2 separate regions of the Homo sapiens genome follow, and region 1 is linked to region 2. The links come from fine-mapping of genetic effects on gene expression. Tissue or cell type: whole blood. Region 2 holds a variant in brackets; the other region holds the start of a gene. All regions are shown on one strand. Distances are from middle to middle.

Region 1 (8,092 bases), 590 kb before region 2:
AACCCCAATAACTGGTAACCTAAACTGTGGCATCACTACCTCTGAGTTGGAGTGACGGAAAGTACTTCCATGAGCTGAGCCATGCCATCCACGATGTCCAGGGTGGCGCCCCGTACCAGCTTTCTCAGGGTGATCCCTGTGGCCAAACCCAAAGAATAAGCAACCTGGTGTTCTTTTCAGAAGCACCATCTGCTTTCCTGAGTCTAAGCATTACAGAACTATAAGGTAATGTACACCCACATGCTTTAACCTACATGCTAACACAAAACTCAGGTCTTACTTATATCCCCATGGCATTTTCTTGCCCCTCCTGCCATTCCTTAGTGTTTTCTTCAAAAGAGATTTGGAACAAAATCTTTCCGTGACACCATGTATTCATTCATTAAGGACCGTGATCTCTTAACAACTGTAGATGAAACACTTGAAGTTTAAGCCACTTGAGTAACCCTGAAGATCCATGACATGTATTCAGTTATAATTTTGGCATGATTATAATCAATGCATGATTCTACAGGCAGGGCTGGAGGCCATTTAACCTATGCAGATGTTCAGAAATAGGGTGAGATATAACATGGGTGGAGGAAAGTAAGGATGGCCTGAGCCTGCATATGGGGCTGAGAGCCAGCCAGTATCTGTGGTGTTAAAACGGGTTGAAGAGGGAGAAGGCTGTGAGAATTAAAAGCCTTATGAGTCAGGCAAGGCAGGGGAGATGGGAAGTCATAGGAACAAAGCATCTGTATCTTAGAATAATGGCTTGTTTATATAAGTCACTTACATTACAAAATTATCCTTCACTGTATTTTATGGGAGAAAGTTACATGTTCAAGTTGGGTAAAGGTAAAAGTCACAAGACATAATCCACAATATTAGCAAAGATCTACACGATAAATGCAACACTTATGTGGCTTACCCTGATCCTTTGGAAGCAAATAGTACACTGCAATAAATGCCTTGATGGCAGCATGGACTTGTTCACAGAACTTCTGGGTTTCCTATGAAAAAGGAAACAGATTAGATCAAAGTGGTCAACCCTTCTGCTGTGGAATAGAGCAGATATTTCTTTTCTTTTTCTTTTCTTTCTTTTTCTTTTTTTTTTTTTTTTTTTTTTTTTTTGAGACAGAGTCTCACTCTGTCACCCAGGCTGGAGTGCAATGGCGCAATCTTGGCTCACTGCAACCTCCACCTCCCAGGTTCAAGCAGTTCTCCTGCCTCAGCCTCCCAAGTAGCTGGGATTACAGGCACCCGCCACCACACCCAGCTAATTTTTTGTATTTTTAGTAGAGATGGGGTTTTGCCACACTGGCCACACTGGTCTCGAACTCCTGACCTCAGGTGATCCACCTCCCTTGGCCTCCCAAAGTGCTGAGATTACAGGTGTAAGCCACTGCACCCGGCCTAGGGCAGATATTTCTACAGCATCATCAAACATTTTCTGAAGTCCTGGTATGAAGGCAGGCCTACTATACTCATCACATACCAGGGAGGAGTTAGCTATATAGTAGATATTGGGCTGACAACTCAATAAACCATTAAGAAACAGCAGGAAAAAACTTATTCCTGATACTCTGTATCCCAAGATATTCATGATATCTTAGACCAGGAGCTGGCAAACTGTGGTCCTCAGGCCAAGTCAGGCCCCACTGCCTGTTTTTGGAAATGAAGTGTATTGGGACACAGCCATACTCACTGGTTTTAATGTCTGTAGTTGTGTTTGCTCTATAAGGGCAGAGTTGGGTAGTTGGTTACAAAATCTAAAATATTTACTAACTGGCCCTTTACAGAAAAGAGAGGGAGGGAGAGAGACAGACAGACCAACTGACAGACCATGGTTATTAAACCATTAACCAGGTCTCTCTCTTTTTTTAACAGAATCAGAATATGTAACTAAAGGTAACTAGCATGGACTCGACAATGCTCCATGTTAACTATTTTCCTTCTAGGTGGTCACTGGCTTTCTCATCTTCCTTGTCCTCAATTTTCTGTTAAATTCTAAGTCAATACTATACAAATGTGGTCCAGGTTGGAGCCAGTCTACAAACTGTTTGTGACCAGTCAGGGATGAGATAAGCAGTGACTGAGAGTGTTTAGAAACTTTTATGGCAATTTGACATTTATTCAACATCCGAGCACATAATTTTATTAAAGTATCATTCCATACAGATTGGAATTTAAAAAACAACAACAACAACAAAAAAAAACCAACAACCACCCATCTTTTAGTAGGACTAAAGTGGTGAGATCTCAAGAAGGCAATGATGATTCATGTGTATGTATGTGTGTATATACACACATATATACATATATGTATTTATTTGAATATATGTATATACTTGAATATTTGTATATATTTCAAATAAATCCAAATTCTAACTTTTCATCTATGAGTGAAACTACTGTCCTGAGCATGTATAGAAAATCAGTTCTATGCTGCCTCCTTGTGGTATCTTACTTGCAGTGAGTTTTAGCAGCAAGTCCTAAGTGCATTTGAAAGAAAGGGGTTAGCAGATAAGAAAAATAAGGTAATATTAACTACTCTTTTTGAAATAAGTATTTTCCATGAATCTTTTGAAGTGCTCTCATACAATTCATCTCTTGTTTCCTCATCACAAATCTCAAAGGTAGGCCAGGCACGGTGGCTCACACCTGTAATCCCAACACTGTGGGAGGCCAAGGCAGGCGGATCACTTGAGGTCAGGAGTTCGAGACTAGCCTGCCCAACATGGTGAAACCCCGTCTCAACTAAAAATACAAAAATTAGCCAGGCGTGGTGACAGGTGCCTGTAATCCCAGCTACTCGAGAGGCTGAGGCAGGAGAACTGCTTGAACCCGGTAGGCAGAGGATGCAGTGAGCCCAGACTGTGCCACTGCACTCCAGCCTGAGTGACAGAGAGAGACTCTGTCTCAAAAAAAAAAAAAAAATCTCAAAGGTATGTAGGAGGAGAGAGTTTATCACTGTAGGTACATGCAGCAGAAGATATTTATATCCTTTCCAAACACCTATATATGTAGACTGAAAAATTAAAACAATTGACTATGAAAATCAAATAAGGCAATGAATATGCCATTTTAAAAGAATCTTACTCCTATATTAAGCATACACAACTCTAGAAAAACTGAGCATAGAGCATACGTGGTCATAGCCAACATGTTTACTTTCATTAGTTTTATAATAAAGGAATATTTAAAATGCATAAATCTTTGTTCTAGCAATTCTACTTCCGGGAATTTTTTCTACCAATATACACACATACACAGAATTAGGTAATTCATCACGACACTGTTTGCAGTAATTCTAAGTTGGAAGGTCCAGAACAGTGTTTATGTATCATTTGTGTAAAAAGAAGCTGACACATACAGATAAATGTATATGAATGTATATATGCACAGAATATACGTGGAATAATGCAAAAGGAACTGGGGGAGACAAAAATGAGAAAGTGGGTGGAAAGGTAAACTTAACACACTTTGATATCTGTTGAATTTTGTACTATCTACATATGTTACTGATTAAATATAAAAAATAATATAAAAAGGGTATTATGCAGTATAACAGAATAGGTAGCTTAGACATCAGATAGACCTTGATTTAAATTCTAGCCCCCCTGCTTTTTTTTAAATCTTAAGCTGAGCTTCTGAGCCTCCTTGCTCATCTGTCAGATGGCCATCAAGTATGTGAAAACACCCAGCAAATAAAAAGTGCTTAAAAAATTATCAGAAGGGAAACAACCAGGATAAACTTCAGACTGAACCAATATTTATAAGACCTGCCTACTCCGCGCCAGGAACTGCACTTGGCAATTCGGTCTTCACAACAATCCTGTGAAGTAAAAACGGTAACCTCACTGGACAGATGAAGAAAAGAAATCTCCTGGCGTGCGTGCAAAAGGTGGAAAGAAAATTAGAGGATTCCTAAGGTGTAACTCGGCAGCCCAAGGATTCCACGAAAGTGAAGCCCACCTGTGGAGACGGCAGTGGAAGCTGAGAGAAGACTATGGTCAGAGTCGTGGCTTCCCTTGACACAGTCACAGCTGCCTCATCTGGGGGGTGGCCGAAGAGGAGGCAGGTGCCAATACGTTAGTGCTGCACGGACTTGGAAGACTTCCCTTACCGACCGAGACTTCTCAAAAACACTTCCCGAATGTCGAGGTTAGAATTCTATTTCACCCTCTCAGGTGCTGAGGTGGGTAAGGTACCTCACAGAAAGGATGCAGCGGGGGAGAGCAGTCCCCTCCGTGGGGGACAGCGGGAGGAAAAGGGGTCGGGACGCTGGAGGAACTGAGGCAAGGGGAGCCCGGAAGGAGGCGCACTCACTGAGTCTTCTCCAGAACATCTCTCGATTAAACTCCTCGGTGGTCTCCTGGGCTTCGCCGACTTGTGGGTGTGGCGTGTGGGGGCCGAACGGTGGCGAATGGAAAAGCTGAGGTAAGCGGAGCCACCTCCCTCGCCCAAGCCCGGCTCCCCGCCGCCGCCCCAGCCCGCCCTCTCCGCGACCCCGAGCCCGGCCTCTCCCCGACCCCGAGCCCGGCCTCTCCCCGACCCCGAGCCCGCCCCTGCCGTCGCCCGTTCTAACTCCGTCAGCTCACCCCGCACTCGAGGCAGGAGCAACCGCAGCTCCTCCGCCAAGTGCCGGAGCTGCTCCAAAGGCGAAGCCAGGGTGGGGACTGCGGCTGCAGGTGCAGTTGCGCTCGCCATCTCAGTCGCTTGCCGAAGGCCGCAAACACAGGCCTCCGCTGCCACTGCCGGAGCCGCACTGCGACAGCCGCTCCACTTCCGGGCCACAGCGTCAAGGGCTCGTTTCCGTCAACAAGCCGTCCAGCCCCGTCCCAGAGGCCCTGCCCTGCCTCCTCCCGCCACGAGGCCCGGCCCCGCCCGAGGTCCAGCACCACCCATCCCGTTATCAGAGACCAGGCCTGGCCCCGCCTCCTCCCGCCCCGCCCTGTCCCCTGAGGTACAGCACCAACCATCCCACTCTCAGAGGCCAGGACAGGCCACGCCTTCTCTTGCCCCTTAGGCCAGGCTACACAAGCAAGCCTCAGGCTCACCGTCTTTCTTATTCATCATTCATTCATTTATTTGATTAGTTGAAAACACTTCCGACTAAGGAAGCAGAGAGCCCACAATCCTGTGGGAAAACAGGCCTGGGAACTAATATCTCAGGGGTAGTGAGGGTCGGGCCCAGATCCTCAAAGGTTCCCTGCCCCTGAAATTGCACCTTTGACAGCTGCTGAATTCCAAGCACAGCGGTAAGTGCTTTACATGGGGTAACCCTAAAAAACACACTGGGCCTCAGACACTCCCGTACACACACCCAACCTCTACCCTGTGGATGTCCTAGATAAGGGTTTTCTCTTCACAAAGGTAAATCAACTCTTTGCCTCCTTAGGGAGGGAAGGAATAAAGGCATTATTTTTGAGACTTTTCTGCAGTCCATTCTGCAGGTATCAGTAGTGGGTAATCCCTCCAACGTCCAGGACTCCAAACGAGCAGCTGCTCCCTAAAGCTCACCCACCAATCCTGGCCCTCCACCTGCTACTGGGGTAGAGGCCTGGGCTACAGACACAGAGGCTGGGCTTCTGCCCAGCTGCCAGTGGTGAGACATGGCCTTCAGGAGCTCAGGTGGCTTTTTAACTGCACCATGAAGATTCCAAACTTGGTGGAGTTCAGTGTCCACACATAACGAATGAGAACAGGTGTCAGCAGTGTCAACCAGGTCCGCAAAGGGGAGAATAAAAAAGCTAGGGTGCCGTATGTTGCATAAAGAAAGTAGCAGGAATAAACCTGCCAGATGTACAGCAGTAGCATAAGTAGGTGAACAGGCATAATTTTCAAGTATTTTCTTTGATGGAGATGAGACCTGAAGTTGTGACCAAAGCACCGCTGCAGCAAGCTCCAACACATGTAAGCCATCAAGGGGATGTTAAAAAACGCCAGCTGGAAAAGAACAGAACCATAGCTTACTCCCAAGTCCTTGGAAGAGTTTGGTCTTAATAATGCATTATTAGTGGATCCTAAGACTATGCTGCTATCTGTCTTGGCGTTAGCTAATTTACTTCAAGCACAGTTGCTTATAACACAACAGCTGACTTGTGGCTAGTTGTGTATTTGCCCATGTCCTTTTATTCATCTTAGAGGCAGGTATCATTTAATTTATGCTGAAGTCCCAACTTGTAGTACAGTATCATATACACAGTTAATACCCAATGGTGTTAAGCTGGAATTGAACTGAGTAAATGTATACACACACATACAACAACCCCTCTTTTTTGGTGGAGTGAGGGGAGGACTTGGCTATCAGTATTTTTTTTCTTACCTCCATTTTTGTTTGAGGTAGCATGATAAGTACTGGAATATAAATTAGAGTATCTAAATTATAATCCAAGTTGAGCTGCTGTATGATTCATTCATTTAACAAATATTTATTGAGCACCCATTATGTAGCAGGCATGAGCTAGGCTCCAAGTTGGGGACACAATGGCAAACAAGTTAGAAAAGGTCCGTCATAGAGCTTACATTCTAACAGGGAGAAGACAGACAAAAAAAAAAACCAAAAAATATAATTACAGATCGTGATTAGTTCAATGAAGGAAAGAACTGGGTCATGAGAAGGTAACTGGGAGAAAGGCTCTCAGAGGCCAGAAGGACAAGAATGAATCAGCGGAGGGAAGTGCATTCTAGGCAGAAGGAACAAATGAAAAGCCCAGAGGTGGGAGAGGTCTTGGCCTCTTTAAGGAAGTGCATGCAGAGCATGAGCCAGGTGGAAATTGGGGCAGTCGGCAGGACCCAGATCACTGCTCTGCTTCAAAGCATTTCAAGCTGAAAAGTAAGTGAGCTGATTGTAAAGTTTTTAAAAGAGCACACTGGATGCTCTGTATTAAGCTGAGAGTAAGGAGGCAAGAATATCAGGGAGAAGACCCAGGCAAGAAATAATTACAACTTAGATTAGGAAAACAGAAATGGAGAGAAGTGGATGGATTCAAGATATGCATTGGAAGCAGATCAAATAAGGTAGAGCTTGCTGGTGAAATAGATACAGGGTATGAAGGAAAGGGAATAATTGAGGATACATCTTGGAGAAATCAGGTGAATGGTGGAGTCATTTATTAAAACTGGAAAAACAGAGAGGAACAGGTTTGGGGTGGAAATAATGTTCCTATCAGAGAGACATCACATGAAGTTGAGATGCCTGTTAGACATCTGTGGCCATTGGATATAGAGGCACTTGAAGTGCAGAGAAGAGGTCTAGATCAGAGATATAGATTTGGGATTCATGGGTCTGGATGATACATAAAATCCATTATTAGTGTACTATTTATTAGAATATGAATGTAAACATTTACAAAGGAAAAAACCCTGCCTTTTGGTAAGGCTCAGGATTCATTTGGTATGAGAGAGCTCCTTAGAGACAGCCTCCATCAACATAATAGAAAACTGCAATGAGGCTGGGTGCAGTGGCTCACGCCTGTAATCCCAGCACTTTGGGAGGCCGAGACGGGCGGATCACCTGAGGTCAGGAGTTCGAGACCATCCTGGCCAACACAGTGAAACCCTGTCTCTACTAAAAATACAAAAATTAGCCGGGCATGGTGGCAGGCACCTGTAACCCCAGCTACATGGGAGGCTGAGGCAGGAGAATCACTTGAATTAGGGAGGCAGAGGTTGCAGTGAGCCGAGACGATGCCATTGCACTCCAGCCTGGACGACAAGATCGAGACTCCATCTCAAAAAAAAAAAAAAAAAGAAAAGAAAAGAAAAGAAAACTGAAATGAACCCAGGACCTACTCATGTATATAATGCTGCTATGCAGAGAATATTCTGGACTTGGGTCAGTGTTTGCTAGGCAGAAGTCTTTCCTACTTGGCTGTCTCTAATCCTGTTGGATCATGTTCTACTGCCCTGTTAGAAGGCCATGAACTTATTTTGAATGTTTTTGGATCTCTTCCAAAACTTCAAATTTTGGTCCACTAACTCCATTAGGTGAGTAAAATAAAGAAACTGTTAGATAAATACTTTTCAAATCTGTTTATGTAGTTTTTCTATGGATCAAGGTTCTTTGTGTGTTTATTTTAAAGGAATCAAATGTAAACCTAATACA
Region 2 (8,104 bases):
TTGTATTTAGAAGGAGCCTTTTGTTGGTCAGCTACACTGGCTCCCCCAAACAGAGGACTACAGAAATGGGGTTAAGAGGGTACTTGGACACAGGCTTACTGTGCAAGTATGTGGGAAGAAAATTTAGCACCTGTTAGCAGTCTGCCTGTGCATGCCTGTCTACTGTGGTGGACATACAGATCTTTTGCTCAAAGGGCTGCTGTTCATTTTATATCCTCTCGTTTAGAAGATTTTGCAAATCATTTTGTCCAAAGACTCTCAAAGTAATCATCACCATCATCATACTTCTCTTCCTCAAGCAATTAATTGACAATCGCTTTAAACCCAGGACAAACCCAAGTTTAAGGTGCAAAGGGTGAGTATAAGGAATTTTCAGCATTGCAGATCCAAGCAAGAGAAAAATGGGGTAACATCAAGGACAACTGTCTTAGGAACTCTCCATTTATGCTTAGGCTGCCCTTGGTCATCTGCAAATGACTATCAAGCTTTGGGCATGTCTCCCCTACAGATAACCTCTCTCTCCAGCCTGGATCTCAAGGGCTCTAGCTACCACAAGGAATTTCCATTACCCTTGTCTTACAGGGGGAAAAATCCACATAAGCTTTGGCATTTTAAAAGATTTCTCTAGTTTCCACTGTTCATTTTTGCATAGTCATGTGCCACGAGCAGCAAACATTGTCAAGAATCTCTGTCTTTCAGATGTTTCTACGAGTCTGAAAATTACTCTTTAAAGATTCACAGTCAAGTTTCTAAAGACGGAAAAAACAAGTTAGATTAAAATCCAGCTCACAGACATGCTTATGGAACCAAACAGCTGTGCTGCTGGCAGAGGGACATACTGAAACACTCATGGTAACCCCTCCCATCTTCCACTCAGCTCTGCAGAGCCCCATCTGATTACTGCACAAAAAGGCTTTTTCTTATAAACTTCTCTCCCTTCGACTTCTGTCTCCATCTTGGTTGGAAAAAAACCAGCACTAGTGATGGAATGTACAAAGCTCTGCAAATATTCATGAGAAAATGCTGCTTTGAATCCACATACTCCCCAGCTCCCCTAGCACATACATGCATCAGAAAAAGGGGATGCACAAAGAAACTGATTGGCATCTGTGGTTCTTTAACTTAGGCAAATTATGAGGCCTTCCCAAAACAGGCAGCAAAATTCAAGAAGGCAGAGTCCTATCTTGTCAGTCATACATTGAACCTTTAATTGAATAATTAATCTAATAGCCATTGATTGATAATGGAAGATGTGCAGCACTGGAAATACAGGAATAGAGTTGTATGTGGTATAGTGTGCGAGAGCTTGGACCATGGAGTCACATAGTCAAGGTTTGATTGCTGCGTCCATCACTTGGTTGTATGACCTTAAGCAATAATGCAACAAATCTGAGCCTGTTCCTATCCCTAAAATGGAGATACCTGCTGTAAAAAAGTGACACAATCCTAACAGTGCCCACCCCTCTGTGAGCTCTCAAATTCCTCCTCACCTTAGTTTGTTCCTCATGTTTCCCTCTCCTCTAGCCCCTCAAAGGTCCCTCCTCAGTTTCAGTCATTCTTCCACCTTCCCCAAAACCTTCATTCACACTCCAAGTTCAGCAGATACAAGAAAAGTAAGGCATAAAAGAAGGGAAGGTCACACTCCATCTCTCCAGCTCATCCTGCGTACTTTCTGAGGCAGCAGATAACAGATCACTTGTTATCATTTTGTAATGGGTTGGGGTTTCCCAAACAGAAATGCTGCTTTTATGGCAGCAGTATCTAATCACACCTGGTCACATTAGAGAACGCATAACAACAGGTATGGAATACTTCCCCATACTACTAGATGGCAATAGGGCAATTTCCTCATCCCAGTTGACTACAGAGCCAGGGACAGGTTAGATCTAAAGAACAAGATCTTTCCTTGAGATTCTGCTAGTGGCACATTACCTGTTATGCTAGGACCATTGTGTTGCAGTCCATGGCCCCTACCATTAGAATAAACAACAGGATTTCCCAGCCACATCAAGAACAATTCTGGACTGGCCAAAAAGAAAACAAACAAACAAAAAAAACTTCTAACTGTTATTTTGTCTCTCTAGACCTTCAATCTGAAAAAGTAAGTATCTTGAATGGTCTCTTAACATTTCTTCCAGTATTAATATTCTGGAATTCTAAAGTCAAGCTATTTAGCTACTATGTATCAGGATTCAAAAATTCTGTACAAGTTACTCTTCGTGTCCTAATTACGTACAATTTTCTGCAATTTAACTGAAATCTCTTTTATCCTAATGAAAACAAAGACCAGCTGGTTCTCATGTTCCAGAAAAAAACTCCTCATGTTCAGTACTTATGGAGCATTATCATCTCTGCCTTCCCATCGCAGGATCAACATTCCTTTACTGAATAATCGCATGTGGAATGCCCATGAGGTATACTACACTAATAGTGGCTCCTCTTGGTTCCTGCAGTCCAGCTCTGTAATCATTTGGGGGAGTATGTGTGGTTTCCCTCTGAAGCCTCTCCAGGTTCCTGACATCCTCACACTGAAGTCCAGAATTGGAAAAGATATTCACCAAAGAATCTATAGCACACTCTCTTTTCTCCGTCTGTCTGTCTCTCTCACTCTCACTTGCTCACTCTCTCTCAGGGCTCCTTGACATAAGTAATGATGTATTCTGTGTGTTGTTTGATGTTCAGTATATTGTGGAGACCAAATAAATATTAAAACAACAAGAAGCACAACCACGCGGTGGCTCACGCCTGTAATCCCAGAACTTTGGGAGGCCGAGGCGGGCGGATCATGAGGTCAGGAGATCAAGACCATTCTGGCTAACACGGAGAAACCCCGTCTCTACTAAAAATACAAAAAAAAAAGTTAGCCGGGCGTGGTGGCGGGCGCCTGTAGTCCCAGCTACTCAGGAGGCTGAGACAGGAGAATGGCGTGGACCTGGGAGGCAGAGCTTGCAGTGAGCCGAGATTGTACCACTGCACTCCAGCCTGGGCAACAGAGTGAGACTCTGTCTCAAAAAAAAAAAAAAAAAAAAAAAAAAAGAAGCACAACCATATTACTACTAAAATACTTTCAATTTTGGAGACAGTGGTTGTTTTGAATTCAGACAAAAATCTCCTGCTCACTCAACATGATTTTTTTTTTGGTCTGGAAATGCTACAAGTGTTTTAGCTAAATAACAGACCATTTTAAAATAAAGATTTCCAGAAGAATAGGAGCAATTCTTTCCATGAAGAGCGGTTAGCTTTTTGTTCATAGACATGATTTTTGTTGACTCAGTCTGCATTTGTTTTAAACAGCCACTTTCAGGCCCTGGTGGGTAAAGCTGAGCTAATACTCCTCATGGAAAGTTTTACAAACACACAGTCACCCAAACACAATACGCCGGAGCAGAGGATTCCTGCGCCAACAGATGTTCCTCACCAGGAGGAAGGGAGGGAAGTTAGTTTTCCAAATGGAGCAGGATGGTCCCAGAAGGGATCATAACCAGATTCAGAAAAGAGGTTTCCAAATCTAGTTCAACTCAGAAAAATATCATGAGCCTTGCTTCTCTTGTACTACGTATGATAATGGTAATCACGGCAGGGACCCAAGGCACAGCACTCATAAACTCATTTGACGCCGAGGTGCCAAGTACTGGGCTGGGCACTTTAATTATTTCATTTCCTCCTCACAATAACTCTTTGAGGCATATATGATCTCTATTTTAGAGCTGAAGAAACTAGAAAGCAAAGAGGATAAGCAACTTGCCCAAAGTAAGCTAGCCAATAACTGACTGCCTGAATTCAAGTCCAGGTTTAATTTCAGAGAAGCAAATTGACTTTAATACAGATTCAAGCCAGAAAAAATACAGGCCAATTTTGAAGAAAAGCTTCTGCTGCAAGTCCAAATATTAACAAATACTGAAAACAGCATTTAGACCAATAATGACTTGCCTTAAGAATGGAAAGCTGGCTGGGTGTGGTGGCTCACGCCTGTAATCCCAGCACTTTGGGAGGCTGAGGTGGGCAGATCACTTGAGATCCGGAGTTCGAGACGAGCCTGGCCAACATGGAGAAACCCGTCTCTACTACAAATACAAAAATTAGCCGGGTGTGGTGGCACACACCTGTAATCCCAGCTACTCGGGAGGCGGAGGCAGGAGAATTGCTAGAAACCGGAAGGCGGAGATTGCAGTGAGCTAAGATCGCACCACTGCACTCCAGCCTGGGTGACAGAGTGAGACTCTGTCTCAAAAAATAAAAAAAAGAAAAAAGAAAAAGAAAAAAAACAGGAAGCTGACACCAGGGTCAAGGAGTAATGGACAAGACAGGTACTATAGAGATCTCCAACCACATCCCATTCACTATAGTCTTTTCTCTCCCCTTCTCCAGTTTTCCATCGCTTCCTTTTCCCATATCCTTCATTTTCCTTTTGTACTGCAGCATAGTGTTGAATATGAACTTTGCAGTCAGATGATCCTGTGTTCAAATCTAGAACTCACATCTTACTGTGTAACTTTGGCAGATCATATAACTTCTCTAAGCCTAAATTTCCTCCACTATAAAAGGGGGATAAAATCCTCTACCTTTTAGGGTATTTAAGAAATTATATCAAATATACATAAAGAGATGATCAGATCA[C/GATCAC]TAGTAGGCTAAATGGTATTTCTTTTTGAGAGTCAGTGAGGTTTAGTGGAAATGACATAAAATTTAGAGTTAAACAGTCTTGAATTTGAATTCTTGCTCCACCACTTACTGGCAAGTCCTATAAACGTTCTATGCCTCAGTTTCCTTATCTACAAAATGGAGTAAATAATATAGATCTAATAGAACGTGAATGAAGTGATAAACATTTACAATTGTATCTGGCTATCAATAGGCATTTAACAAATAAAGCTGCTTCTCAGTAGAACTTGCAGTAGCTGACTTGTCCTCTAGTAGTCCCTAGTTGGTGACAACTGATCTATTTACTCAGGCATTTCACCACTAAGGACCAGGAAGAGTGCCAAAGCACTAAGGAATTTTAACTTTGAACCTATCTTTTGAGGCTGTAAATATAAAAAGACAGAGAATGATACAATGCAATAAAAAGACCACCATAAGGAAGCCTGGGTCTGTTCCAGCTTGAGCACTAACCACCTGTATAATGCCATAAATTACATGGCCAGATCTGTAACATATGAGGGTTGGCCTAGATTAGTGGCTAATGTCCAGACATTTTTTTTTTTTTTTTAAGATGGACTCTTGCTCTGTTGCCCTGGCTGGAGTGCAGTGGTGCGATCTCGGCTTACTGCAACCACCGCTTCCCGGGTTAAAGCAATTCTCCTGCTTCAGCCTCCCGAGTAGCTCGGATTACAGGCATGCACCACCATGCCTGGCTATTTTCTGTATCTTTAGTAGAGACAGGGTTTCGCCACGTTGGCCAGGCTGGTCTTGAACTCCTGACCTCAGGTGATCCACCCGCCTTGGCCTCCCAAAGTGCTAGGATTACAGGCGTGAGCCACTGTGCTCAGCCTGGACATGTTTTTTATTGTCACAGTTGGGGGATTGCTACTGGCATCAAGTGGGTAGAGGCCAGGAATGCTGCTAAACATTCTACAATGCACAGTACAGACCCCCACAACAAAGAATTATATGGTCAAAATGTCAACAGCGCTGAGGTCAACAAACTCTGGCCTAGATGACTAACAAGTTCTCTTCAAACTCTAACATACTAAGAGGCTATGACAAGGCAGCACTGACACAGTTTGTGCATCTGTCCCCTCCAAATCTCATGTTGAAATGTGACCCCCAATGTTGGAGCTGGGGCCTGCTGAGAAGTGTTTGGGTCATGGGGACAGATCCCTCATGAATGGCCTGGTCCCCTCCCCACAGTAATGAGTGCGTTCTTGCTCTATTAGTTCACACTGGAGCTGACTGTTTAAGAGAGTGGCCTCCCTCCCATCTCTCGCTCTCTCTCTCTCGCTGTGACAAGACTGTCTCCTTCCCCTTCTGTTACAACTGGATGCTCTCTGAACCCTCAGCAACAGCAGATACTGGCACAATACTTTCTATAAAGCCTGCAGAATTGTGAGCCAAATAAACCTCTTTTCTTTATAAATTACTAAGCCTCAGGTATTCCTTTATAACACAAAATAGACTAACACAAGCACCAACACTGATCAGGTGACATTCTTGTCAACATCTACCTCTGAATGGCTTCTTAAGATGCTGCTCTAAATCCCCCTAAAGTCAGATATTTAGATACTCCCTCCATATCCACTAAGGGAAATTTAGATAGTTCCCTCAGATATTTTGATATCTGAAATCAATGCCATATTTCTGAGCAGTCCTTCCTTTGTAATAAGAAGAAACCTAGGGATGAAAGACACACTGTATCCTTTATAGTTAGAATCCATGCTTCCAAAGTCATGAGATTCCTTCTGGGAGAGCAGATAATTTAAATAAATATGAATCAAGGTCAGGTGTGGTGGCTCACACCTGTAATCCCAGCACTTTGAGAGGCCAAGGCAGGCAGATCGTTTGAGCCCAGGAGTTTGAGACCAGCCTGAGCAACACAGTGAGACCACATTTCTACAAAAACTACAAAACTTAGCCGAGCATGGTGGCACACGTATCTGTAGTCCCAGCTACTCAGGAGGCTGAGGTGGGAGGATCACTTAAGTTCAGGAGGTTGAGGCTGCAGTGAGCTGTGACTGCGCCACCCTACTCCAGCCTGAGTGACAGAGCGAGACCCGGTCTCAACAAAAAAAAAAAAAAAAAAAAAAAGAATCAAGGTTAGAAGATGTGACACACACAACAGTAAAGATGAATCTTGGCCAGGTGTGGTGGCTCACGCCTGTAATCCCAGCACTTTGGGAGGCCAAGGCAGGTGGATCACAAGGTCAGGAGTTTGAGACCAGGCTGGCCAACATAGTGAAACCCCGTCTCTACTAAAAATAAAAAAATTAGCTGGGCATGGTGGCAGGCGCCTGTAATCCCAGCTACTCAGGAGGCTGAGGCCAGAGAATCACTTGAAACCAGAAGGTGGAGGTTGCAGTGAGCCATGATCGCACCACTGCGCTCCAGCCTAGGCAACAAGAGCGAAACTCCATTTAAAAAAAAAAAAAAAAAGATGAATCTCAAATACATCACGCAAAGTGAAAGAAGCCAGATTCAAACAACTACATACTGTTTGATTCCATTTTTATGACGTTCTGGAACTGATAAAACTGTAGGGACAGAAAACAGATCAGTAATTGTGAGGGCCTGGGGAAATAGACTATAAAAGAGCATGAAGCAATTTTTGGGATGATAGACTATTTTGTATATTGATTGTAGTGTCAGTTACACACCTGAATGTGTTACTGTACATTAAAAAGGTGAATTTGGCCAAGCGTGGTGACTCATGCCTATAATCCCAACACTTTGGGAAGCCAAGGCGGGAGGATCACTTGAGCCCAGGAGCTCAAGACCAGCCTAGACAATACAGCAAGACCCTATCTCTATTAAAAATAATAATAAATAATTGTTAAAAAAGAAAAAAAGGTAAATCTTTCACTATATCTAAATTATACTTCAATAGACTGACCCCTCCTCTCAAAATTTGATCACTAATGCTGTGGAGAGCTGGATGTGGTGGCTCACACCTGTAATCCCAGCACTTTGGGAGGCCAAGGCAGGTGGATTACTTGAGGTCAGGAGTTCGAGACCAGCCTAGCCAACATGGCGAAACCCTGTCTCTACTAAAAATACAAAAATCAGTTGAGCATGGTGGCACACGCTTGTAGTCCCAGCTACTCAGGAGGCTGAGGCACAAGAATCGCTGGAACCCAGGAGGCGGAGGTTGCAGCGAGCCAAGATTGAGCCACTGTACTCCAGCCTGGGTGACTAAGACTCTGTCCACACACCCCCACCCCCCACTCCAAAAAAAAAAAAAAAAAAAAAAAAAAAAAAAAAAAAAAACGCTGTGAAGAGGATAAACTGGGTTACATCCAAATTCTTTTCCACCCCAAGTCCTAAGATTGTATAGATTCCACCTTTCTTACCCGTCCGTGGTGGCCTCAGAGCCATAGTGATTAGGGTTAAACCTGAGCTCCAATTTCTGTGTTAAAGCAATGAGGGCCTCTGATTGTATCATGTAGATATGAGTCCT

What was found. PIP is the estimated chance that this variant, and not a neighbour inherited with it, causes the effect.
Region 1: it holds the start of CCNDBP1, and the variant in region 2 is fine-mapped to the expression of CCNDBP1 in whole blood (INTERVAL, PIP above 0.99).

Annotation. Positions count from the first base shown.
Region 1 is chr15:43,182,099-43,190,190 of GRCh38, reverse strand. It overlaps CCNDBP1 (cyclin D1 binding protein 1), which reads right to left and starts at 4,788. Exons shown (of 11, transcript NM_012142.5): 1 at 4,584-4,788; 2 at 4,312-4,371; 3 at 3,958-4,037; 4 at 911-992; 5 at 40-136. The coding sequence starts at 4,692. It overlaps TMEM62 (transmembrane protein 62), which reads right to left. Exons shown (of 14, transcript NM_024956.4): 14 at 5,047-5,931. The coding sequence ends at 5,605. LOC124903478 (a long non-coding RNA gene) reads left to right here and starts at 4,304. Exons shown (of 2, transcript XR_007064604.1): 1 at 4,304-4,422. RefSeq lists an enhancer at 4,183-4,282 and silencers at 4,453-4,542, 4,763-5,062.
Region 2 is chr15:42,588,587-42,596,690 of GRCh38, reverse strand. The region is part of intron 3 of STARD9 (StAR related lipid transfer domain containing 9); the gene reads right to left. Among named protein-coding and RNA genes, the nearest start is that of STARD9, 17 kb to the right of the region's middle. The variant C/GATCAC (reference allele first, on the strand shown) is at 4,618.